Linked DNA regions of Homo sapiens. Changing the gene in region 1 together with any one later gene gives a genetic interaction. Each region holds a gene or a part of one and is shown in the gene's direction. Other genes may lie near its edges. The genes, in order: SEC23IP, IGF2BP1, SLC39A9, SEC24C, RAB5C, CARM1 and B3GNT2.

What was found.
Region 2: changes in SEC23IP (region 1) and IGF2BP1 together harm fitness more than expected from each alone (negative genetic interaction), as found in Homo sapiens cells (one large-scale study listed by BioGRID).
Region 3: changes in SEC23IP (region 1) and SLC39A9 together harm fitness more than expected from each alone (negative genetic interaction), as found in Homo sapiens cells (one large-scale study listed by BioGRID).
Region 4: changes in SEC23IP (region 1) and SEC24C together harm fitness less than expected from each alone (positive genetic interaction), as found in Homo sapiens cells (one large-scale study listed by BioGRID).
Region 5: changes in SEC23IP (region 1) and RAB5C together harm fitness more than expected from each alone (negative genetic interaction), as found in Homo sapiens cells (one large-scale study listed by BioGRID).
Region 6: changes in SEC23IP (region 1) and CARM1 together harm fitness more than expected from each alone (negative genetic interaction), as found in Homo sapiens cells (one large-scale study listed by BioGRID).
Region 7: changes in SEC23IP (region 1) and B3GNT2 together harm fitness more than expected from each alone (negative genetic interaction), as found in Homo sapiens cells (one large-scale study listed by BioGRID).

The regions. Positions count from the first base shown.
Region 1 is NC_000010.11:119,899,230-119,902,729, forward strand, and holds part of SEC23IP (SEC23-interacting protein), read left to right. Parts: intron 1-3,500. UniProt on the Homo sapiens protein: Plays a role in the organization of endoplasmic reticulum exit sites. Specifically binds to phosphatidylinositol 3-phosphate (PI(3)P), phosphatidylinositol 4-phosphate (PI(4)P) and phosphatidylinositol 5-phosphate (PI(5)P).
Region 2 is NC_000017.11:49,049,385-49,052,884, forward strand, and holds part of IGF2BP1 (insulin-like growth factor 2 mRNA-binding protein 1), read left to right. Parts: coding exon 1-60; 3' UTR 61-3,500. UniProt on the Homo sapiens protein: RNA-binding factor that recruits target transcripts to cytoplasmic protein-RNA complexes (mRNPs). This transcript 'caging' into mRNPs allows mRNA transport and transient storage.
Region 3 is NC_000014.9:69,401,692-69,405,191, forward strand, and holds part of SLC39A9 (zinc transporter ZIP9), read left to right. Parts: intron 1-3,500. UniProt on the Homo sapiens protein: Transports zinc ions across cell and organelle membranes into the cytoplasm and regulates intracellular zinc homeostasis. Participates in the zinc ions efflux out of the secretory compartments.
Region 4 is NC_000010.11:73,754,372-73,757,871, forward strand, and holds part of SEC24C (protein transport protein Sec24C), read left to right. Parts: intron 1-3,500. UniProt on the Homo sapiens protein: Component of the coat protein complex II (COPII) which promotes the formation of transport vesicles from the endoplasmic reticulum (ER).
Region 5 is NC_000017.11:42,144,990-42,148,489, reverse strand, and holds part of RAB5C (ras-related protein Rab-5C), read left to right. Parts: intron 1-3,500. UniProt on the Homo sapiens protein: The small GTPases Rab are key regulators of intracellular membrane trafficking, from the formation of transport vesicles to their fusion with membranes.
Region 6 is NC_000019.10:10,902,553-10,906,052, forward strand, and holds part of CARM1 (histone-arginine methyltransferase CARM1), read left to right. Parts: intron 1-2,398; coding exon 2,399-2,524; intron 2,525-3,500. UniProt on the Homo sapiens protein: Methylates (mono- and asymmetric dimethylation) the guanidino nitrogens of arginyl residues in several proteins involved in DNA packaging, transcription regulation, pre-mRNA splicing, and mRNA stability.
Region 7 is NC_000002.12:62,199,115-62,202,614, forward strand, and holds part of B3GNT2 (N-acetyllactosaminide beta-1,3-N-acetylglucosaminyltransferase 2), read left to right. Parts: intron 1-3,500. UniProt on the Homo sapiens protein: Beta-1,3-N-acetylglucosaminyltransferase involved in the synthesis of poly-N-acetyllactosamine. Catalyzes the initiation and elongation of poly-N-acetyllactosamine chains. Shows a marked preference for Gal(beta1-4)Glc(NAc)-based acceptors.

The DNA.
Region 1 (3,500 bases):
GTAAAAATAAGTGTTGTCTAGAGACATAGGAGAATTGAAGCGGTTATTGTCTTAACAGACTGCTAGTTTCTCATCTTTCAATTACACTAGTCAATCAAAACACTCAATTACAGGGACTAAAATTGATTACTTCAGTAATTTCTTTATGGAGTTTGGATCTAGATCAGTCAAACTCTATCTAGGGAGAGTTGGTGGAATAACGTATGCATTGGGTAAATTTCATGAAATTCCCTTATGCATTTTTCCCAACTAATTGTTTATTTGATTTCCAAAGAAAAATCAACAGAATTAAACAAAAAGAGAAATGATTAAAAAGAATTAAGAACCCATTTCAGTGTGGTGGAGATAGCAGTATTGTGATCAGAATGTAACTAACTTCTCTGTTAGAGATAGAGAATGGACTCTGTTTTATCATTTCATTTAAATCATACCAATACACAAATTTTTGACAATGTTGGATTTCGGCATTCTGAAAAGTAACCAGATTCATAGCATGTGGTATATAGTTAGTATTTTTGCTAACTATAACAAACTAATTGTAGTTTGTTGCTTAAATTTTTAAAAAGGTTTTTAGATAAAAGTTTAAAAAATGATAATTTCAAACTTGAAGAAAAGTTGCAAAAATAAAAAGAGTACAAAGAGCACTCTAATATCCTTTACTCAGGTTTACTTATCATTAACATTTCATCCCGTTTGTTTTTTAATTTGTGCATGTGCACACCCTGGCATATGTGAGCCCTCCCTCTTCCCCCATCCCTTTCTCCTGCCCCTTCCTCCTGCTTCTCCTCCTGCCCCTCCCTCTTCCCTCCCTTCCCCTCATCGTTTTTTTCTCTTTCTGTATATATGCAATTTTGGGGGGAATATTTGAAGGTCAGTAAAATACATTATGATTCTTTACTCCTAAATTCCTGGTGTACATTTGCTAAGCATAAGGACATTCTTCTTATGTGCACAGTGCAGCTATGAATCTCAGGAAATTGAGTGTTGATGTAATACTTCAAAATGATTTTTTAGAAATTATATATGTGTATGTATATGTACGTGTGTGTGTATGTGTGTGTGTGTGTGTATATATATATATATAAAATTTTTTTTTTTGAGGCCAGGTCTTGCTCTGTCACTCAGGCTAGAGTGCAGTGGCATGGTAACGGCTCACTGTAGCCTCGAATTCTCAGGTTCAAGTGATCCCCCTACCTCAGCCTCACCAGTAGCTGGGACCACAGGCACATGCTGCCATACCTGGCTAATTTTTTTTTTATGTTTTGTAGAAATGAGGTCTCACTATGTTGCCCAGGCTGGTCACAAACTCCTGGGCTCAAGCAGTCCTCCTGCCTTGACCTCCCAAAGTTCTGGGATTATGGGCTAAATTATATATTTTTTTGAGACTGGGTCTCACTCTGTTGTCCAGGTTGGAATGCAGTGGCGCAATCACAGCTCACCTGCAGTCTCAAACTCCTGGGCCTCAAGTGATCTTCCTGCCTCAGCCTACCAAAGTGCTGGGATTACAGGTGTGAGCCACCACACCTGTCCCAAAATGGTGTCTAATTAAAAAATTTTAAAATAAGTCTAGTCTGATTTTAAAATCGTTTTTGTAGAAAATTTGAAAAATGCAGAATACTCAATTTAATAAAAAATGTCCATAGATAACCACTGTTTTCATTTTGTTATATGTCTTTTTTTGGCAAACATATAATACCTATGGTTTCTATAATCTATTTTTTTTTTGTGTGAACATACTTTAAATGTTACTAAGATTTTTTCTAAAACATTAAAATTTTTTTCTTTTTCTTCTTCTTTTTTTTTTTTTTAAAGAGTGGGGGGGGGGTCTTGCTCTGTCATCCAGGGTGGAGTGCAGTGGTGTGATTACAGCTCACTGCAACCTTGAACTACACTTCAGCCTCAGGAGTAGCTGGGACTACAAGTGTGCCCCACCATGTCCGTGTGATTTTTAGATTTTTTTGTAGAAACGGTATTGCTGTGTTGCTCATGTTGGGCTCAAACTCCTGGCCTCAAATGATCCTCCTTCCTTGGCCTCCCAAAGTTCTGGGATTATAGGTGTGAACCATCGTGTCTATCCTCTAAAACTTTTATTTTTGTTTATTTACTTATTTTTTTTTTTAGCTATCTCCTGCAGAAAGGATATAAGACATTTTTAATGGCGCTGGAGGATCTAGCATTTGAGTTAAATATTATTTAATCAGGTTTCTGTTAGACATTTTGATTATTTCCAGTGATTTCCTATTTTATTTATTTTTTTGCAAACATTCCAAATTTATTAGCTATGATTTTATAATCAACATTATTGAGGTATAATTTACATACAGTAAAAGGCATCCATTTACAGTATACAATTCGATTTATTTAAAGTGTACAATTAGCTGAGTTTTGACAGTTGTACACACCAATTTCCTATTTTAAATAACCTTTTGATGTATATCCTTGGGGATAACTTTTTATTTTTATTTTTTATTTATTGTTTGAGACAGAGTCTCTGTCACTCAGGCTGGAGTGCAGTGGTGCAGTCTCAGCTCACTGCAACCTCCGCCTCCCGGGTTCAAGCGATTCTCCTGCCTCAGCCTCCCAAGTAGCTGGGATTGCAGGCCTGTGCCACCACGCCCAGCTAATTTTTGTATTTTTAGTGGAGACAGGGTTTCACCATGTTGGCCCGGCTTGTCTCGAACTCCTGACCTTAGGTGATCCACCCACCTCAGCCTCCCAAAGTGGCAGGATTACAGGTGTGAGCCACTGCACCTGGGCTATTTGTTTTTATAATTCTATCTTTAGGATAAATTTTTAGAAATGGAATGAGTAGGTCAAGGAGTAGGCACATTTTAAAGGTTAAATAGGCCGGGTGTGGTGGCTCACACCTGTAATCCCAACACTTTGAGAGGTCAAGGCGGGCTGGTCACTTGAGGTTGGGAGTTCGCAACCAGCCTGACCAACCTGGAGAAACCCTGTCTCTACTAAAAATACAAAATTAGCTGAGTGTGGTGGCGCATGCCTGTAATCCCAGCTACTTGGGAGGCTGAGGCAGGAGAATCGCTTGAACTCGGGAGACGGAGGCTGTGCATTGCGCCGTTGCACTCCAGGCTGGGCAAGAAGAGCAAACTCCGCCTCACACACACAAAAAAGGTTAAATAAATCATGGGAGATGTATTGCTAGATTGATTTCTGTAAAGGTGTTAGTTTACTTTGTGTTCTGTGAGAAGGTCTGGTTCACCTTGTAATTGATTTTTTTCTAAATTTTTTAATTTTTAATTTTTGTGGGTACATAGTAGGTATATATGTTTATGGGTTACATGAGATATTTTGATACAGGCATGCAATGTGTAATCATCACATCAGGATAAATGGGGTATAGATATCCCTCACCTCAAGCATTTATCCTTGATTTGGGGTTTTGTTAGGTTTAAAAATTCTTCTTAAAATTGCTTTGGGGTCTAGTTATTACACTAAGTAATTGTCCAGATATACATGTAGGATAATCTACTAACATCAGT
Region 2 (3,500 bases), on another chromosome or scaffold:
CAGGTTAAGCAGCAGCATCAGAAGGGACAGAGTAACCAGGCCCAGGCACGGAGGAAGTGACCAGCCCCTCCCTGTCCCTTCGAGTCCAGGACAACAACGGGCAGAAATCGAGAGTGTGCTCTCCCCGGCAGGCCTGAGAATGAGTGGGAATCCGGGACACCTGGGCCGGGCTGTAGATCAGGTTTGCCCACTTGATTGAGAAAGATGTTCCAGTGAGGAACCCTGATCTCTCAGCCCCAAACACCCACCCAATTGGCCCAACACTGTCTGCCCCTCGGGGTGTCAGAAATTCTAGCGCAAGGCACTTTTAAACGTGGATTGTTTAAAGAAGCTCTCCAGGCCCCACCAAGAGGGTGGATCACACCTCAGTGGGAAGAAAAATAAAATTTCCTTCAGGTTTTAAAAACATGCAGAGAGGTGTTTTAATCAGCCTTAAAGGATGGTTCATTTCTTGACCTTAATGTTTTTCCAATCTTCTTCCCCCTACTTGGGTAATTGATTAAAATACCTCCATTTACGGCCTCTTTCTATATTTACACTAATTTTTTTATCTTTATTGCTACCAGAAAAAAATGCGAACGAATGCATTGCTTTGCTTACAGTATTGACTCAAGGGAAAAGAACTGTCAGTATCTGTAGATTAATTCCAATCACTCCCTAACCAATAGGTACAATACGGAATGAAGAAGAGGGGAAAATGGGGAGAAAGATGGTTAAAATACATAATAATCCACGTTTAAAAGGAGCGCACTTGTGGCTGATCTATGCCAGATCACCATCTTCAAATTGGCACAACTGAAATTTCCCCACTCTGTTGGGGCTTCCCCACCACATTCATGTCCCTCTCCCGTGTAGGTTTCACATTATGTCCAGGTGCACATAGGTGGTATTGAATGCTCAGCAGGGTAGGGGCTGACCACTGTCCCTGATTCCCATCGTTCTCAGGCGGATTTTATATTTTTTTAAAGTCTATTTTAATGATTGGATATGAGCACTGGGAAGGGGACGCTAACTCCCCTTGATAAAGTCTCGGTTCCATGGAGGACTTGAGTGGCCCCAAAGGCTGCCACGGTGCCCTCACCCCAGCCCATGTGCTCCCATAAGGGCTGGTTCCTAGAGGCAGGGGTTGTGGGGCACTCCCAGCCACGGCACTGTTACCTTGGTGGTGGGACTTGGAACCCAACCCTGAGCTCCCGATAAAGCTAAAGTCCATCATCTGGCAAATTCAGTAAATTGGAGAGTACTTGCTTCTGTTTGTATCTGAGAGGAATTTTTAACTGACGGCTTCTGTCTCCATGAATCATTATCAGCATGATGAAAGGTGTGTCTAAAAAACAATTCAGAATACCAGCAGCATTGTACAGCAAGGGGTAAATAAGCTTAATTTATTAATTTACCAGGCTTAATTAAGATCCCATGGAGTGTTTAGCCCTTGTGGGAGACAGAAGCCATCAGTTAAATGAGGTTAGGCCTCTCCTCCTAATATACTGATTGACAATGCATATTAGCCAGGTAATGCACTTTAGCTACCCTGGACAATGCTATCAAGTGTGCTGGGAAGGGAGGAAGGCCTCTCTACATATGGAAAAGCCCATGCGTGGAGTTCCCCTCCTTTCAACATTGCAACAACAGTAACAACAAGACAACCGCAACATGTGGGCGTAGTCAGGCAATGCTGTGTGCGAAGTAAACTACCTCAAGGTATGAAGTTACCTCAGCAATTATTTTCCTTTTTGTTCCCCCCAACCCCATTAAAAAAATTTTTTTTTGATTTTTGTTTTTTTGCAGCTTGCTGATATTTTATATAAAAAAGAAAAGCAAAGCAAAAGAGAAGCTGATAGTCTTGAATATTTTATTTTTTTAATGAAAAGAAAAAACAAGAAAGTTATGTTTCATAATTTCTTACAACATGAGCCAGTAACCCTTTAGGAACTCTCTATGGAGAACAGGCCTGGTGGGAAAGGCTTTGGGGGCTGCCCCCTTAGGAGGAGGCTAGTGCTAAGAGGGAAGGCCCAGGTTTGAGAGAGCCCAGAGGGGCAGAGCCCAGAGCCTTGTTTGGCCCTGATCTCTGACTTCTAGAGCCCCAGCTGCTGGCGGCTGCTGGAATATCCTACCTGATAGGATTAAAAGGCCTAGTGGAGCTGGGGGCTCTCAGTGGTTAAACAATGCCCAACAACCAACCAGCTGGCCCTTGGTCTCCTCTCTTTCCTCCTTTGGTTAAAGAGCATCTCAGCCAGCTTTTCCCACCAGTGGTGCTGTTGAGATATTTTAAAATATTGCCTCCGTTTTATCGAGGAGAGAAATAATAACTAAAAAATATACCCTTTAAAAAAACCTATATTTCTCTGTCTAAAAATATGGGAGCTGAGATTCCGTTCGTGGAAAAAAGACAAGGCCACCCTCTCGCCCTCAGAGAGGTCCACCTGGTTTGTCATTGCAATGCTTTTCATTTTTTTTTTTTGTTATTGTTTCATTTCAGTTCCGTCTTGCTATTCTTCCTAATCTATATCCATAGATCTAAGGGGCAAACAGATACTAGTTAACTGCCCCCACCTCTGTCTCCCTGTCTTCTTTAGATCGGTCTGATTGATTTTAAAAGTGGACCCAAACTTAGGGAATTCTTGATTTAGGGTGGCTGGTGGCAAGGAGGGGCAGGGGATATGGGGACGTGACTGGGACAGGTTCCTGCCTTATCATTTTCTCCCTAGGACATTCCCTTGTAGCCCCCAGAATTGTCTGGCCCAAATTGAATAGAAGCAGAAAAACATTTAGGGATAACATCAGGCCAGTAGAATTAAGCCTCTCCACCTGTCCCAACCATAAAAAGGGTCTCCCAGCTTTCCATCTCTGGCTCTATATGCTTTATCCCAAAACAAAGCAGATAACGTTCAGACGTCGGCCATTTAGTAATTTAAAGCGAATTTCCAGCAGCAAGCATGCTTTGATATCTGGTTCAGACTATCATCAGGAAGAAAAAAAAATCCCACAGTACCTGAAATGTGATTGTTGCAGTGTTCAGTTTCCTTGGGGGCCTGCTCCCTTCACACCTTGAGCCCAAGTCCTTTTCCGTTGGCTGATTCAGCTCCCAGAAGAGACGAGGAAGTGTGTGGCAAGGGACTGGAAAACTTCACTTGCTTGGATTAGGCAAGGCTCCACTCATTGTTGATATTTGCCCAGCAGGAAAATCATGTAAGTTATACCACCAGAAAGCAAAAGGAGCATGGTTTGGTGGTTAAGGTTTAGTGGGATGAAGGACCTGTCTTGGTGGGCCGGGCCCTCTTGTGCCCCGTAGGCTAGGTCTTAGGGCAACTCCTTGCCCTCCTGCTCAGCACCTCCATTTCCCCATCCTTGGTGAGATAACAAGCTATCGCGAAAAGCACTTGGGAGATTTGGATGATTTGAGAAGAGTGACTTAAAAAAAATGCTTCTGTGCTCTAAGATATATATGTGTGTGTGTGTGCTACATATATATTTTTAAGAAAGGACCATCTCTTTAGGAT
Region 3 (3,500 bases), on another chromosome or scaffold:
TCATTTGTGGCTTTCTTAAATTGACGGTCAGATGGTCTTTTCCAGCTGTAGGTCTTAAAATGCTAAAATCAGCATTCATAATATCTGTTTATTATTAGAGTAGATGCAATGCATTTTGAGCTATTAGAATAAAAAATGAAAGTTATATATAACTTAAAGACATCCTAGAATTCAACTAGGATTTCTATCTCCTAGGAACTAAACATATTTTCTAGGTAAATTATGCCATTATTATGGACCAATGTTGTAATGAAACTAGTGAGATGGTAAATTTGTAAAAATAAATTTCATTCACGGGGGACTGGAAAGCACCATTTCTTTCCTTAGAAAATAATTCCCCAAACTCCTACACTGGATAAATGACTTGCCTTTTTAAGGAAGTCTGGCTTTCTTAGAGGCTAGTGTTACTGTTTTACAGTTCACTTTCGTTTACATCAGGGGTGTCCAATCTTTTGGCTTCCCTGGGCCACATCAGAAGAAGAATTATCTCAAGCCACACATAAAATACACTAACACTAAGATAGGTGATGAGCTAAAAAAAAAAAATGCAAAAAAAAACTCATAATGTTTTAAGAAAGTTTATGAATTTGTGTAAGGCTTCATTCAAAGTGCTCCTGGGTTGCATGCGGCCCACGAGCCATGAGTTGGACAAGCTTGATTTACATGAAAAGATATGCTTTTTATTCATGTTTTTAATCTTGCTGCTGCTTTCTCATTCAATACTTTTTCTAAAAATATCTCAGAACAGGAATAAAAGTCAGATGATCAATTATGGCAAGATTAGTATTTAAAAACGAGTTAAAATTAGGTAGTCTGAAATTGCAGTAGTGGTGGGGTCTACCTGCCAGATGTGCCCACCAAGAGGTTTATGTGACATTGATTTCTCTGTCAGTTTCTCCTCACCCCAAAACTACCTTTCTTGATACTTTTGTGGCCTTCTTCCTTGCCCTTTGACCTGGCAACTGTACTTTCATGCCTTAAAAATTTATAAAACAAAGGAAAAAAAATCCGATTCTCAAATGCAATTATAAGTAACTATGATAATCAGGATGTAAATTTTTTCAGTATACAGGAAAGAGAAACACTTTTAACTTTTAAAGGAGGCCAGCCAGGTGCTAAGTGGCTCACGCCTGTAATCCCAGCACTTTGGGAGGCTGAGGTGGGCGGATTACCTGAGGTCAGGAGTTCGAGACCAGCCTGGCCAACATGGCGAAACCCCATCTCTACTAAAAATACAAAAATTAGCTGGGCGTGGTGGCATGTGCCTGTAATCCCAGCTACTCAGGAGGCTGAGACAGGAGAATTGCTTGAACCCAGGAGGCGGAGGTTGCAGTGAGCCGAGTCCCACCATTGCACTCCAGCCTGGGGAACAAGAGCAAAACTTTGTCTCAGAAAAAAATAAAAATAAATAAATAAAAATAAATAAATAAAGGAGGCCAAAGCATGCTTTACACAAAGGAAGCCCTGTTTGGTAAGGGAGTGAGACCCGTTGGTTTATAGTTAACACTGTCTTATGTTTTTTCGATTGAATTGCTAATGAGTAGTTTTCTTTGGCTCTAAATAACAATGTTACATAAGTAGGTTGAGAGCCTATATTACCTAGTATAAACTCAGTGCTGCTGCAGTTGATAAATGGAGCTATGATACAAAAACAGATGGCTCAAGTGGGATTTCAGATTGATTATCTGAGGGTTGTTACTCACCTGAGTATGTCTCCTCTTTGTCACAGAGCTGGTAACAGAGAGCAAGCTGTTTTTGGCTCAGAGCTCTACAGCAATATTCCTCAAACTGCCTGGTAAAGGATCAGTTTTTGTTTTTAATTTTTATTTCAATCCATACCAATACACTTATAAAAATGAAATAGTAGGAAAATGAAGTGAAAAAAAGACATAGAAAATACAAGCCCAAATGTATTGTTAAATTCAACAGATAAAAAATTACTACTATAATTGTAATAATCATATTGCTCTAAAAATTTCTGAAGGCTTTATCTCAGTTGCCATACTTTTCTTATTGCAGACCAGTTTGAGTTATAATGCCACATTTTTCATGTATTAAAACAGCAAAGCAGGCCAGGCGTGGTGGCTCACGCCTGTAATCCCAGCACTTTGGGAGGCCGAGGCAGGCGAATCATCTGAGGTCGGGAGTTCGAGACCACCCTGACCAACACGGAGAAACCCTGTGTCTACTGAAAATACAAAATTATTTGGGCGTGGTGGCACGTGCCTGTAATCCCAGCTACTTGGGGGGCTGAGGCAGGAGAATCGCTTGAACCTGGGAGGCGGAGGTTGCAGTGAACCAACATTGCGCCATTGCACTCCAGCCTGGGCAGCAAGAGCAAAACTCCCTCTCAAAAAAACAAAAAACAAACAAACAAAAACAGCAAAACTGGATGTAGTGGCACACACTGGTTAGTCCCAGCTACTCCAAATGCTGATGTGGGAGGATCACTTGAGCCCAGGAGTTCAGGGTTGCAGTGAGCTATGAGTGTGCCTGTGAATAGCCACTGGCAACATAAGGAGACCTACTCCCTAAAATAACCAACAGCATAAATCCATAAGTTGGCAGATGAAAGTAGTGCTATTCTTAGGATGATTTTAAAGATGAATATGATTAATAATGCACTGATTTCAAAAGGGACTGTCTGAGACAGTATCATTCAAAGTCAATGTTACTACTTGAACAAGCTATTAAAATCCAAATCTCTTCTGTTAAATGACCTTCTAGGATTGTTGTGAGGTTGAAATAATATAAGCACAGGCTTAACACTATGTCTAGAACATAATAAAAACTTTCAAAAATATTGAGGCAGATTCTCAATACTGATTAGAAAAACTTGTAAAGATTTTCATTTTTATAACTTTGTTCTAATTTATAATTGTTAAACCTTTTATTTGGAAACAGACTTAATAATGGGAAGCTCCTCCCCCTCCTCCCCTTCGCAGTCATGGAAACTTCTCGGCAATTTGTTTGGAATCCAAAGGTCTTGTTGTGGGGTTTGGTTTGCATTACTATTTACCATTCTATTTGGAGAGGCCAGGGCTTTTCCTCTACCCTCCCTGCTTTATACTATTTTTCTTAGTATTTAACTCTCTTTTCTTCATTATACTTACTCTCATTTTAAGCTTTGTTTTGTTCTTTCGTGTTTTAAAGTTTTGTGTCTGTATTAGTCCATTCTTACACTGCTAATAAAGACATTTCTGAGACTGGGTAATTTATAAACGAAAGAGGTTTGATTGACTCACAATTCAGCATAGCTGGGGAGGCCTAAGGAAACTTACAATCATGGCAGAAGAGGAGGCAAACACATCCTTCTTCATGGGGCGGCAGGATGGAGAAGTGCTGAGCAAAAGGGGGAAAGCCCCTTATAAAACCATCAGATCTCGTGAGAACTCACTGTCACAAGAACAGCAAGAACTCACTATCACAAGAACAGCATGACCTCCCACCAGGTCCCTCGCATGGGAACTACAACTCAAGATGAGATTTGGGTGGGGACA
Region 4 (3,500 bases), about 46 Mb from region 1:
GCCACTGCACTCCATCCTGGGCGACAGAGTGAGACTTCGTCTCAGGAAAAAAAAAGTATATGGGAGGTTATATGCAAATATGATGCCGTATAACCCACATCCAATTCTATTGATTCCACCTTCAAGATGTATCCCAAATCTCACTACAGTCATTCCTCAGTATCCATGGGGGAATGGTTCCAGGACCTCCCCTGACCAACAGATACCAAAATCCACAAAGGCTCAAGTCCCTCATATAAACTCTATTCAAGTAGAGATGTTAGGTAGGCAGGTGCATATACAAATCTGCAGCTCAAGACTGATGCTAGGACTGGAGATAAAAATTTGGGAGTCCTCAGTCTATAGATATTTAAAGCCGTGGGACTAGATGAAATCATTTAAAAAGTGAGTATTGAGATTAAAGAATGGAATTGAGGACTGAGACTTGGAGCTTAGCAACATTTAAAAGTAAAGAGGAGCCGCCATTAAAAGACAATGAGGGGCCAGGTGCAGTGCCTCACTCCTGTAATCCCAGCACTTTGGGAGGCTGAGGCAGGCAGATTGCTTGAGCTCAGGAGTTCGAGACAAGCCTGGGCAACATGGTGAAACCCTGTCTCTACCAAAATACTAAAATTAGCCGGGTGTGGTGGCACATGCCTGTGGTCCCAGCTTCTTGGGAGGCTGAGGTGGGAGGATGGCTTGAAACCAAGAGGCGGAGGTTGCAGTGAGCCGAAATCGCACCGCTGCACTCCAACCTGAATGACAGAGTAAGACCCCATCTCAAACAAACAAAAAAAAAACAAAAGACAATGAGAAAGAGCAGTAGTGAGGTGGGAGATAAGCCGGGAGAGTGTGGTGTCCTGAAGTCAGGTGAAGAGAGTATTTCAAGAAGGTGAGAGAGTAATCAGTTGTGTCAGATGCTGCCAAATTGTAAGATGAAGATGGAGAATTGACCATTGAATTTGGCAAGGTTGGCGTCATTGGTAAAGGCAGTTTCAGTGTAGAGATAAAGAAAACTACCCAGTTGGAGTGAGTCAGAGTTTCAGGCCAGGCGCGGTGGCTCATGCCTGTAATTCCAGCACTTTGGGAGGCCGAGGCGGGTGGATTACAAGGTCAGGAGATCGAGACCATCCTGGCTAACACGGTGAAACCCCGTCTCTACTAAAAATACAAAAAATTAGCTGGGCGCGGTGGCAGGCTCCTATAGTCACAGCTACTTGGGGGGCTGAGGCAGGAGAATGGCGTGAACCCAGGAGGCAGAGCTTGCAGTGAGCCGAGATCTTGCCACTGCACTCCAGCCTGGGCGACAGACAGCGAGACTCCGTCTCAGGAAAAAAAAAAAGTTTCAACCGGGTGGTAGATTGACATAATCTGAAAACCCTCTGCTACCAAAGTCTAGAAAGGAGAGAGAAAATAGAAACAAAAAAAATTTTTAAGTGCAAAGTTAAGCTTGAAAGAAAATGTGAAATTCTTAAGTTTTAGAGACCAAGTGAGGACTGAAAATCTTTTTTTTTTTTTAAATACAGAGTCTTGCTCTGTCGCCCAGGCTGGAGTGCAGTGGCACGATCTCTGCTCACTGCAACCTCTACCTCCCAGGTTCAAGCGATTCCCCTGCCTCAGCCTCCCAAGTAGCTGGGACTACAGATGTGGGCCACCATGCCCGGCTAATTTTTGTATTTTTAGTAGAGATGAGGTTTCACCGTGTTGGCCAGGCTGGTCTCAAACTCCTCGCCTCAGGTGAACCGCCCACCTTGGCCTCCCAAAGTGGTGGGATTACAGGCATGGGCCACTGTGCCTGGCCATCAAGTGAGGACTGAAAATCAGAGTGGTAAATTGACTCTGGAGCTGCCTGTAGATTGGGTGGATTCATCATCTTGAGAAGCCAGGGCCTTAAATTTAAGCAGGTACTGGGGAAGGCAGATGAGTCCTTGGGCTTTCCTGAGAGTAGTTTTGGAACTGAGACATTGTTTATAAAGTCTGGACCTGGGCTGCACCTTCATTGAACAAGCTGACTAGGGGAAAAAAGTCTGCACGCTGGAAAGGGGAGATAAGGAGTGCTGTTTCTCTCAGGCTGGCTGTGGATGGGTGAAAAAAAAAGTTCTTGGGACTGCAAATGGACATGACATCTTTTTGGAATGATGAAAATGTTTTAAAATTTGATTCTGGTGATGGTTGCATAACTAAATTTACTAAAAATCATTGAATTGTTCACTTGAAGTGAATTTAATGGTATGGAAATTACATCTCAGTAATATTTTTTTTTTTTTGAGACAGAGTTTTGGTCTTATTGCCCAGGTTGGAGTGCAATAGCACGATCTCAGCTCACTGCAGCCTCTGCCTCCTGGGTTCAAGTGATTCTCCTGCCTCAGCCTCCCAAGTAGCTGGGATTCCAGGCATGACCACCATGCCAGGCTAATTTTTTGTATTTTTAGTAGAGACAGGGTTTCACCATGTTGGCCAGGCTGGTCTTGAACTGACCTCAAGTGATTCACCTGTGTTGGCCTCCCAAAGTTCTGGGATTACAGGTGTGAGTCACTGTTCCTGGCCAATTTTTTTTTTTTTTTTTTTTTTTTTTTTTGAGATGAAGTCTCGCTCTGTCACCCAGGCTGGAGTGAAGTGGTGTGACCTTGGCTCACTGCAACCTCCACCTCCCAGGTTCAAGTGAATCTCCTGTCTGAACCTCTTGAGTAGCTGGGATTACAGGTGTGCACTACCACGCCTGGGCTAATTTTTGTATTTTTTTAGTAGAGATGGAGTTTCACCATGTTGGTCAGGCTGGTCTTGAACTCCTGACCTCAAATGATCCATCTGTCTCGGCCTCCCAAAGTACTGGGATTACAGGCATGAGCCACTGCACCTGGCCTAATTTTTTTTTTTTTTAAATTAGAGGCCAGGTGCAGTGGCTCATGCCTGTAGTAATCTCAACACCTTGGGAGGCTGAGACAGGAGGATCACTTGAGGCCAGAAGTTTTAGACCAGCCTGGGCAACATAGGGAGATCCTGTCGCTATAAAAAAAAAAAAATAGCTGAGCATTGTTGGTGTGCCTGGGAAGCAGAGGTGGAGGCAGGAGGATTGCTAGAGCCCTGGAGGTTGAGGCTACAGTGAGCCATGATGGCTTCGCTGCACTGTGGCCTGGGTGCCAGAGTGAGACCCTGTCTCAAAAACTAAAAAAAAAAAAAAATCAATCTAGGGTGACACTGTCATTATTGGAGTACCTTCTGGAAACAAATGTAGAACAACCACACCTCAGTCCGGGCTGGAAGGGATTATCGGAGAAAGGCACTTTGATTAGAGTTGGGCCAGGCACAGTGCTCATGTTTGTAATCCCAGCACTTTGTGAAGCCGGGGTAGGAGTTCAAGACTATCCTGGGCAGCATAGCAAGACCCTGTCTCTACAAAAAATAAAAAAAATTAGCTAGGTGTGGTGGTGTGTGCCTGTGGTCTCAGATACTTGGGAGGGGAGGCTTAGGGGGAGGATTGCTTGAGCCCAGGAGGTCAAGGCTGCAGTGAGCCACAGATA
Region 5 (3,500 bases), on another chromosome or scaffold:
TTAAAGGAGAGGGCAGACATTCAAACCTGCCCTTAAAGCAAACACCAAACACCTGCCCACTTCTTTTTTTTTTTTTTTTTTTTTTTGAGATGGAGTCTTGACCTCTCACCCAGGCTGGAGTGCAATGGTACGATCTTGCTCACTGTAACCTCCGCCTCCTGGGTTCAAGTGATTCTCCTGCTTCAGCCTCCCTAGTACCTGGGATTACAGGTGTGTACCACCACGCCCATCTAGTTTTGTATTTTTAGTAGAGACGGATTTCACCATGTTGGCCAGGCTGATCTCAAACTCCTGACCTCATGATCTGCCTGCCTCAGCCTCCCAGTGCTGGGACTACAGGCATGAGCCACTGTGCCCAGCCTTGCCCACTTCTTTTTTTTTGTTTGTTTTTGAGACAGAGTTTTGCTCTTGTTGCCCAGGCTAGAGTGCAATGGCACAATCTCAGCTCACCACAACCTCCGCCTCCCGAGTTAAAGAGATTCTCCTGCCTCAGCTTCCCAAGTAGCAGGGATTACAGGCATGTGCCACCACGGCCGGCTAATTTTTTGTATTTTTATTAGAGATGGGGTTTCTCCATGTTGGTCAGGCTGGTCTCGAACTCCCAACCTCAGGTGATCCACCCGCCTCGGCCTCCCAAAGTGCTGGGATTACAGGTGTAAGCCACCATGCCTGGCCCTCGCCCACTTCTTTTAACACACACTTCCCTTCCTTTCTTCACACACTTTGGATGTCGTGAACCTATGATTCAAACTTAAATCCATCTGATCCCACAGCTTGAGCCATATCTTTGGTCCATCCCCCAGAAAGTTGCTCACAGACAAATGGGAGAGCAAACAGGTCAATAGGATCAATGTTACAGTACGGATGATGGGAAGCAAGTCACAAACTCAGTTTCCAGAAGTTAAGACTCTCCAAATCTCCATTTCTGGTGAAGGGTTTAATGGGACAATGAGGGCGCGGCCCTGACTAGCCACAGTCCGGCTGACTGGCTTCTGCCGTGTGTGTATCTGATGGCAGGACAGAACGACCGTGCTTCTGCAGTTGTGTGTGGTGAGGCAGCACCGACCCCAGACCAGTACTTAGCAAGGATCAGTGGAAGCAAATTTGACTCTGCCTGTGGATACTGTTCTGTATGTCTGCACAAGGCTCGTTCCTGAGTGAAGGTGGCTTAAAAAAGTGGTGGCAGCAGCTGTTCAGACCAGTGGTATGAGCAGCCCTCACATGTGTATTCCACAGATGGGGTCTTTAACATTCCCTGGTCCTGTGCCTGCAGTACTTGGATATCCTCTGCTCACCTTGAGGCTGGTCTTTCTTTCTTTCTCTCTCTCTCTCTCTCTCTCTCTCTTTCTTTCTTTCTTTCTTTCTGTTTCTTTCTTTCTTTCTGTCTTTCCTTCTTTCTTTCTTTCTTTCTTTCTTTTTCTTTCTTTCTTTCTTTTTCTGTCTTTCTTTCTGTCTTTCTGTCTTTCTTTCTGTCTTTCTTTCTTTCTTTCTTGACGAAGTCTTGCCTTGTCGCCCAGGCTGGAGTGCAGTGGTACGATCTCGGCTCACTGCAAGCTCCCGGGTTCATGCCATTCTCCTGCCTCAGCCTCTCGAGTAGCTGGGACTACAGGCTCCTGCCACCACGCTTGGCTAATTTTTTGTACTTTTAGTAGAGGCAGAGTTTCACCATGTTAACCAGGATGGTCTCCATCTCCTGACCTCGTGATCCGCCTACCTTGGCCTCCTTTTTTTTTTTTCTTTTGAAATGGAGTCTTGCTCTGTTTCCCAGGCTGGAGTGCAGTGATGCCATCTTGGCTCACTGCAACCTCCGTCTCCTGGGTTCAAGTGATTCTCCTGCCTCAGCCTCCCGAGTAGCTGGGACTACAGGCGTACGCCACCATGCCCAGCTAATTTTTATATTTTTAGTAGAGACGGGGTTTCGCCATGTTGGCCAGGATGGTCTTGATCTCTTGACTTTGTGGTCTGCCTGCCTTGGCCTCTGAAAGTGCTGGGATTACAGGTGTGAGCCACTGTGCCTGGGCAATTTTTGATTTTTTTGTAGAGACGGGGTCTCCCTATGTTGCCGAGGCTTAATAAACTTATTCTTTCAGAATACTTTTAGAAAAGTTACGCAGATAGTACAGAGTTTTCTCACAATCCCTCACACATAGTTTTCCCTGTTATTAACATCTTATGTTAGTACGTATTTTACATTAAAGTCCATCCTTTATTCAGATTTCCTTAGATTTTTACCTGATGTCCTTTTGCTGTTCCAGGATCCCATGTTACCTATATTCATTGTCTCTTTAGGCTCCTCTTGCTGTGCCAGTTTCTCAGACTTTTATTGTTTTTGATGACCTTGACAGTTTTGAGGAGTGCTGGGCAAGCATCTAAAGAGGATCTCGGCCAGGCGCGGTGACTCACGCCTGTAATCCCAGCACTTTGGGAGGCCGAGGTGGGTGGATCACTTGAAGTCAGGAGTTCGAGACCAGCCTGGCTAACATGGTGAAGCCTCATCTCTATTAAAAATACAAAAATTAGCCAGGCATGGTGGTACGCACCTGTAATCTCAGCTACTCAGGAGGCTGAGGCACAAGAATCGCTTGAACCAGGAGGCAGAGGTTGCAGTGAGCCAACATCGTGTCACTGTGCTCCAGCCTGGGCTGGAGACAGAATGAGACTCCGTCTCAAAAAAAATAATAAAAAATAAAGAGAATCTCTTCTCAACTGGGATTTGTCCAGTATTTTTCTCTTTTTAACAGAGTCTTGCTCTGTCAGCCAGGCTGGAGTGCAGTGGTGCAATCTCGGCTCAAGCCATTCTCCTCAGCCTCCCAAGTAGCTGGGACTACAGAAATGCACCACCACGCCTGGCTAATTTTTGTAGAGACAAGGTTTCACCATGATGTCCAGGCTGGTCTCAAACTCCTGAGCTCAAGCGATCTGCTCACCTCAGCTTCCCAAAGTGGTGGGATTACATGCGTGAGCTAACACGCCTGGCTGTGTCCAGTGTTTTTTTCATAAGTAGACTGTGCCAAGTTTTGGGAAGGAGGACCAGAGAGGTAAAGTGCTATTTTCATCACATCATGTCAAGGGTACATACAATCCACAAGCCTTTCCATGACTGATGTCAACCATGATCACTTGGCTGAGGTGATGTGTGTGAGGCTTCTCTGTAAAGTTGTTCTCCCCTTCCCCTTTCCATGCTGCATGCACCCTTTGGAAGAAAGTCACTGTGTAGCCCACACCTAAGGAACAGGGACTTATGTTCATGTTCCCCTTGTTGAGGGCGGAGTAGCTACATGAGTTACTAAATTATTTTTTCTTTTTCTGTTTTTTTTGAGATGGAGTCTCACTCCATCGCCCAGGCTGGAGTGCAGTGGCGCAATCTCGGCTCACTGCAAGCTCCGCCTCCCGGGTTCACGCCTTTCTCCTGCCTCAGTCTCCCGAGTAGCTGGGACTACAGGCCTATAGGCGCGCGCCACCACACCCGGCTAATTTTTTTGTATTTTTTTTAGTAGAGA
Region 6 (3,500 bases), on another chromosome or scaffold:
CCCATCTTGCCCTCCCAAAGTGCTGGGATTACAGGCGTGAGCCACTGTGCCCAGACTTTTTTTTTTTTTTTTTGAGACATGCTCTTATTCTTGTCACCCAGGCTAGAGTGCAGCGTTGCCATCTCTGCTCACTGCAGTGTCAACTTCCTGGGCTCAGGTGATTCTCCCACCTCAGCCTCCCAAGTAATTGGGACTACAGGCGCATGCCACTACACCGACTAATATTTTTATATTTTTAGTAGAGACGGGATTTCACCATGTTGCCCAGGCTGGTCTCAAACTCCTGGGTTCTAGTAATCTGCCTGACTCCCAAAGTACTGGGATTACAGGTGTCAGCCACCATGCCTGACCCTAAAATAGTTTTTTATATATTCTGGACACTAAATACTTAACAATAGATGATTTGCAAATAGTTCTCCTAAGAGTTTTCTTGTTTTAGCTCTTATATTTAGGTCATTGCTCCATTTGAGTTCTGTTTTGTTTGTATATGGTGTGAGGTAGGGGTTTAACTTCATTCTTTTCTCTGTGGTTATCCAGTTTTCTCAACAGTGTTTGTTGAAGACACTATTCTTTCCCCATTGAATGTTCTTGGCATCCTTATCAAAAATCAATTGAGGATAAGTATAAGGGTTTATTTCTGGACTCTGATTCTGTTCCATTGATCTGTGTCTCCTTTCTTTTGCCAGTACCACTACACTGTTTTCATTACTGTACCTTCGTAGTAAAATTTGAAATTGAGACATGGGAATCCTCCAACTTCATTCTTTTTCAAGACTGTTTTGGCTATTCAGGGTGATTGAGAACACTTTGCCATATTTGCACTCATGTTGTTGTTGTTATGATGGGCTATTCAAAAGCAAGCTACTGACATCATGGGAATTTGCCATAAATACTTCCGCATATGTTTTCTAAGAAAATATGCATTTCTCTACAAAACCACAATACCATTGTCACATCCAAATAACTTAAAATTATGGAATATGTAGTCCACACTCACATTTCCCTAGTTGTCTTTTTTTTTTTTTTTAATAGGATCTCACGTCTGTTGCCTAGACTAGAGTGCAGTGGCACCATCATACCTCACTACAGCCTCAACCTCCTGGGCTCAAGCGATCCTCCCACCTCAGCCTCCCAAGTAGCTAGGACCACAGGTGTGAGCCACTCTGTCCAGCTCCCCAGTTGTCCTTTATTTATTTTTTTGAGACAAGGTCTTGCTCTGTCACCCAGGCTGGAATGCAGTGGCACAGTCATGACTCACTGTAGCCTCAGCCTCCTGAGTCCCTAAGACAACAGGCGCATGCCACCATGCCTGCCTAATTTTTAAATTTTTTTGTAGAGATGGGGTCTTGCTATGCTGCCCAGGCTGATCTCCAGCTCCTGGGTTCAAGTGATCCTCCTGCCTTGGCCTCCCAAAGTGCTGGGATTAGAGGTGTGGGCCCAGCCTCCCCAGTTGTCCTGTATAACTTTTAAAAACATTTTTCGTTTGGCTCCAGCCCAGGGTCCCACTTTGCATTGCATTGGGCACTCCCCTCTTTCTTGTCTCCTGCACTCTGGAATAGCTCCCACCGTTTTGGTCTTTCCTGACATTGGCCTGTTCAAGGAGACCAGGCTGGTTGTCCTGTAGCCTGCCCCACAACTTGTCCTTTTCTGTTGTCCCTTGAAGATGAGACTAGGGCAAACATTTTTGCCAAGAATACTACAGATGATGCACCTGTCCCACTGCAGTATGGCAGGCAGGGGCACAGTGCCTGATTGGGCTGGCCCGTTCCTGGCATCGCTAAGTTTCACCATTTGGCTGGAGTGGAGTGGCTGCAGGTTTGTGGAATGAATGACTGGTAACAGCTATCATGATGGGTACAGGGAGACAGTGTCCTAATTCACTAGACCACTGCCCCGCCATTAGCCCCATCTGATGGTGAGAACCCCAGTTCCAGAGAGGCTGAGGGACATGCCTGTGTCACAGTGAACAAATGGCATGGATGGGGTGTGAACCCAGCGGTCTGACTCCACTGGCCACATGCAGTCACTGCTCTGCGCCCATCCAAGAACAGAAGGGCTCAGCCGAGCAGGGCAGAGGCAGCTCCAGCTCTGAGTTCCTGTGGGCCAGCACCATGCCTTGTGGCCCTGTCTGCCCACCTCAGCCTTCACCATGCCCGTCTCAGCCCTGATCATCCTGAGGACACAGGCTGTGTTCCTGCTGTCTGATCAGTCGCTCCCTTGTCTTCCATGTGGGCTGGGCAGTCAGGGCACCCGGCAATGCTGCCAGGGTGGTTTTGTGGCACTCTGGAAGAATCTGGGGGCACCAAGGGGAGGCAGCAGGAGGGCGACAGGGACCCAGGCTCAAAAGAAGGCAGCTGACAGGGCTGCACCGCTCACGCCAGCCTGTCTTCTCTCGTAGATGAAGATGTGTGTGTCTTTAAGTGCTCAGTGTCCCGAGAGACAGAGTGCAGCCGTGTGGGCAAGCAGTCCTTCATCATCACCCTGGGCTGCAACAGCGTCCTCATCCAGTTCGCCACACCCAACGGTACGTGGCCCTCCTTCCATTCCGGTGACACCAGCCCAAAGCGCCCAGAGCCCTGGTGGGCAGGGGCGTAGAGCCTGGCTGAGGGGTGGCCCGTGCATCCTTAAGAAGGCTCCACTGCCCTCAAAACCACATTCCCACATGCAGGTATGCCCAGAATACACTCTGGCCTGGGCAGACCCTGGATCCCAGACCCTCCCTCACCGGCTCCTCCGGGTCTTTTGGGGCTTGGCTTCTATGTCCCCACCTCCAAGAGGCCCATCCTGACCACCTGGGACCAGTCTTTCTGGCAGTGGCCAGCCCTGGGCCAGCTGTGACTGGGCCAGCTGTGGATGGAGTGAGGCGAGGTCCTAGAGGCAGGAAGAGTTTGCTCAGGGCGCAGAGAAGCCACCAGAAGGGCTTAACCAACCCACCTTGGGGGCACAGGTGGACACAAGATTCCTGACTAGGGGTGGGAGAACCCCAGGTGGATGCAGCCAGGGTAGCAGAGAGGTGTCCAGGAATGCCCAGGGCTGGAGATGGTCTGAAGGTCCCACCGCAGGCTTGGTTACCAGAGACCTGAAGTGAGTCCAGTGGTTGACACAGGTGCTGGTGCGAGGACAGCTGGAGGTGGAGAGGCTGCGTGCCCATGAGCCACTGCCGGCCTCCCCCTTGTCTCAAGGTAGCTGTGCAGTGACCCAGATGTACCTTGGGCAGCCTGAGCCCTCGGGGCCAGCTGTGTGAAGCTGCCATGCCTGGCTAATTTTTTGTAGAGATGGGTTTTCACTGTGTTGCCCAGGCTGGTCTTGAACTCCTGGCCTCAAGTGAGCCACCTGCCTCAGCCTCCCAAAGTGCTGGGATTACAGATGTGAGCCACCGTGCCCGGCCCCTTTTTTTTTTTTTTTTTTTTTTTTGAGAAAGAGTGTCACTCTGTTGCCCAGGCTGGAGTTCAGTGGTGCTATCTTAGCTCACTGCAACCTCCACCTCCCGGGTTCAAGGC
Region 7 (3,500 bases), on another chromosome or scaffold:
GTCTTTAGTAGAGACAGGGTTTCACTGTGTTGGCCAGGCTGGTCTCGAACTCCTGACCTGGTGATCCACCCGCCTAGGCCTCCCAAAGTGCTGGGATTACAGACGTAAGCCACCGCGCCTGGCCTTAGCTTTAAATGTTTTCTAGCAATGCTAGGGTTTCATGAAAATCCTAATTTAGGGATGCTGATCCACAGCTGTTAATACTCTTGACATACTGGGTCAGTGCTTTTCATTCTTTCTGACTTGGTTAATGGATGTAGTATTTGACTGTATTTTTCTGTATTTTTTTGATGGTTTTATTGGAAAGTCTGTTAGAGACTTTAAAAATTAATAACTGCCTATGGTTACTTTTATAAACATTGAGACCTTGAGATCTTGCAACTAGGATAATACTTGGTGATGTGTAATCTATTGCAACATCCCTGATGGTGGTACATACATCACCAATACTGAAAGATTCTCATAAAGGCCTTTTGGTCTCTTATGTAAGTGCCCAGGGGAAACTAAAGTCATTTGGTTGCTTGGTATTTTTGGTGTGTACAGAAGGTTAAAACATGAATTAAACTAGACTCTGAAGTGGTAAATGTTTCCTGGCTGCATCCAGTAAAGAAAACAGCACAAACACCCAAAAGGTGTGGACCCAGCTGTCTTTTTCTCCACTCTCTAAGGTGGGATTGCTGTTCCTACGTACTTGCCAAATATGTCTGCAAATTACAGAATGAATACATTCCTCTCTCTGGAGAGGCAATTACTGTTTGAATAAGAGGTGTATGTATGTGTGGGGTAAGGTTTTGGGAGAATTGATGTAATGATTTCATCATCACTCACTGGTAAGGAGACTTTGCCAGGCTGGAACCTGTTACTTGATGGAGAATTTATTATTAGGGCTTATGTGGCACAATTACTTTGCTGCTGGAAAAAGTTATTTGTACTGAGTTTTCTATTTGTTACAAATTTTAAGAGTTGAGATTTTTGCCCTCTGTGTGTTGCCCTGTGAGTATTAACAACCTCTGCCCACCAGCTTTGTCTTTTTGCCTTGTCTTAATTTTTGTAACAAAAATTCAGATGTCTTTTGAGAGTCATAACATGTATCTTGTGCAATTTTAGCTTTAGGTATTTTCATATATAACTTTAAGAATGTTACACATTATTTTCTGTGCATCTATAACTTAAAAAAAACAAAAACCATTTTCTGATGTGGCTACAGAGGGGGAAATTCCCAGTAGCCAGGAAATTGATACTTTCTACTTTTCATTCTGTGGCATTTTAAAACAGAGGGTTCAGGTGTCTTCATTCTGATATGAGTAGGATGTACGTAGCTTACCAGAATGTTTGAAAAAAATGATAATCCAAGGTAATCAATTCTGGCATGTGGCTAGATTCTGTCCGAGTGCCATGTGGTGGTTTAGTGGTTAAGAGCATAAACTTGGAGTCCATAAGATGAGGATTTTTTTAACTTCATGTATAACATGCAGTAAAGTGTGAGAAGTGTTAATATTAAGCATGAGCTCATGTATGTAAGCTCTCAGATTAAGAAATAAACATTTTCAGTACTGCAGAAGGTTCCTGCGCCCATGTCTTGTCCGTGTTCCCACCCCCTCACCCTGAAGGAACTGTTATTCTTTCTTACATCATCATAGATGTGACTTCTGTCATCATAGATGGGTTTTACCTGTTGAACTTCATGTAAGTGGAATCAGTCATACAGTGTGGCATGTAGTCTTTTGTGAAATAGGCTTGAATTCTATTTTTACCACTTATTGTGTGACTACGGACAAGTTATTTAATCTGAGTCTCAGTTACGTATGGGAATGCCTAAAGTTAAAATTACACGAACTATTTCAGGATAAATTTTCTCACTTGTAAAATGGGGAAGATAAAGCCCTATGTTAGATTTACTGGGGAAAGTAATATAAAGCTACACCTAGAATACCTAGCACTGTGCCTGACTGCAGTTTCCTCTTCCCCTTTTTATTTCTTTAACAGGGTGATAACTAAAGCAACTAGATCTTTTGTGTTTAAATGAGCTATTTCATTAAAAGTTCTGTAGGTCTTTTATTGAAAATTAGAAGACAAATCTTTATTTAATACTTTGTTGATATAGCTTTAGCTTTAAGATGTATTATTTGTTAGTTGCCTGTTTTTGACATTTCCTCTCTAAAGACAGTCATTGAAATGTCCCATTCAGAGTTGTTTGGCCACCTGTGTAACATGAGCTAGGATGCAGTGATGAGAACTGGTTTATGGTCAATTATGGAGCTTGTGGAAGAGTTTAGTTTGGGTAAGAGTCATCAATAAGTGCCCAAGATGCTCACAACATCTGCTTTATGTTTAGTGAAATAATTATTTCAGAGGTGAAAGCACAGGACCAATTATTTTAATTGCTTGCTTCAGACAAGCCACTTAAAACATTTTCAGCTCTTGTAATCTTACCGTGTAAGCGGTATTACATAATTCCATGGCCTCATGTCTCCTTATTTGTTTGGTACTTTTCATTTTTGGACTCATTCTGCAAATGTAACTTGGGTAGTACTTGGCATTCTTTCTAAATGACTTTCATTAAATGTTTATTTAGAAAAAGTATTCAAGATAAAGTAAAGGAAAATAAAACTAATTCCACCCTCTCTCACCACTATAACTACATTAACTTGATGTGGGTCCTTCTAAGTGCTCATTTCTTCTTTTGTACACTTCTAGAATGACCTTAGGAAAAACATACTTCCAATACTTTATGGAAATTTAAAACAAAATATGGGCCTGCTTAGAGATGTCTAGCAGAGAAGGCAAGAGTCTTCGTAGGCCTAAGTTCAAATCTGTCCACACTGTGGTCCCTACTTGTACCTTTGTTAGTGCTGAGCAGACAGTCCCCAGAGACTCCATCAGAGGGTCCCCTGGTCTCCAGATTACAGTAGCCAACACGGAAAACCTGCCCTGGAATACTTCTCCATTAAGACCTCAAGATGTTTGGTGAAGTGAGCAGTTTGTTCTCCGACCAAACACGCATTGATTGAGCACTTGGTGTGTGCCTAGCACTGTGCTTGGCTGTGCGTGATTGCTGCCTTCAGTGGGCAGTGTGGTGGAGACAGCCAGGAACTGGTAAGATTGCCTTGGTAGAGGTGTAAGCCAATTATGTGTTGGAGGCAGCCAAGAAAGGCTTCTTAAGGAAGTGGCCTTTGGGCTTGGTCTTGAAGGATGTGAATAACATTTCAGAGGCAGAGAAAGGAAGGTAGAAGTGCTCAAGGGATTGTAGGCTGAGAAAACAGGACACAACAGAAAGGCTCATAGAGGTCTTTTGGGGAAACAGCAGGTGATCCATTGGGTTTGGAGTGCATGGTGCTTAGAAAGGTGTAATAGGCCATGATGCAATCTCGGGGATCATGCAGAGATGTGGCAGTTAATAGTTATGGAGGTAGTGAGGAACCAGTGAAAGTTCTTGTGGTCAGGGGAGAGAGAGAGAGGGTGTGGGTGCTGACAAGTTATGGCCAGGCTTGCATTGAGGA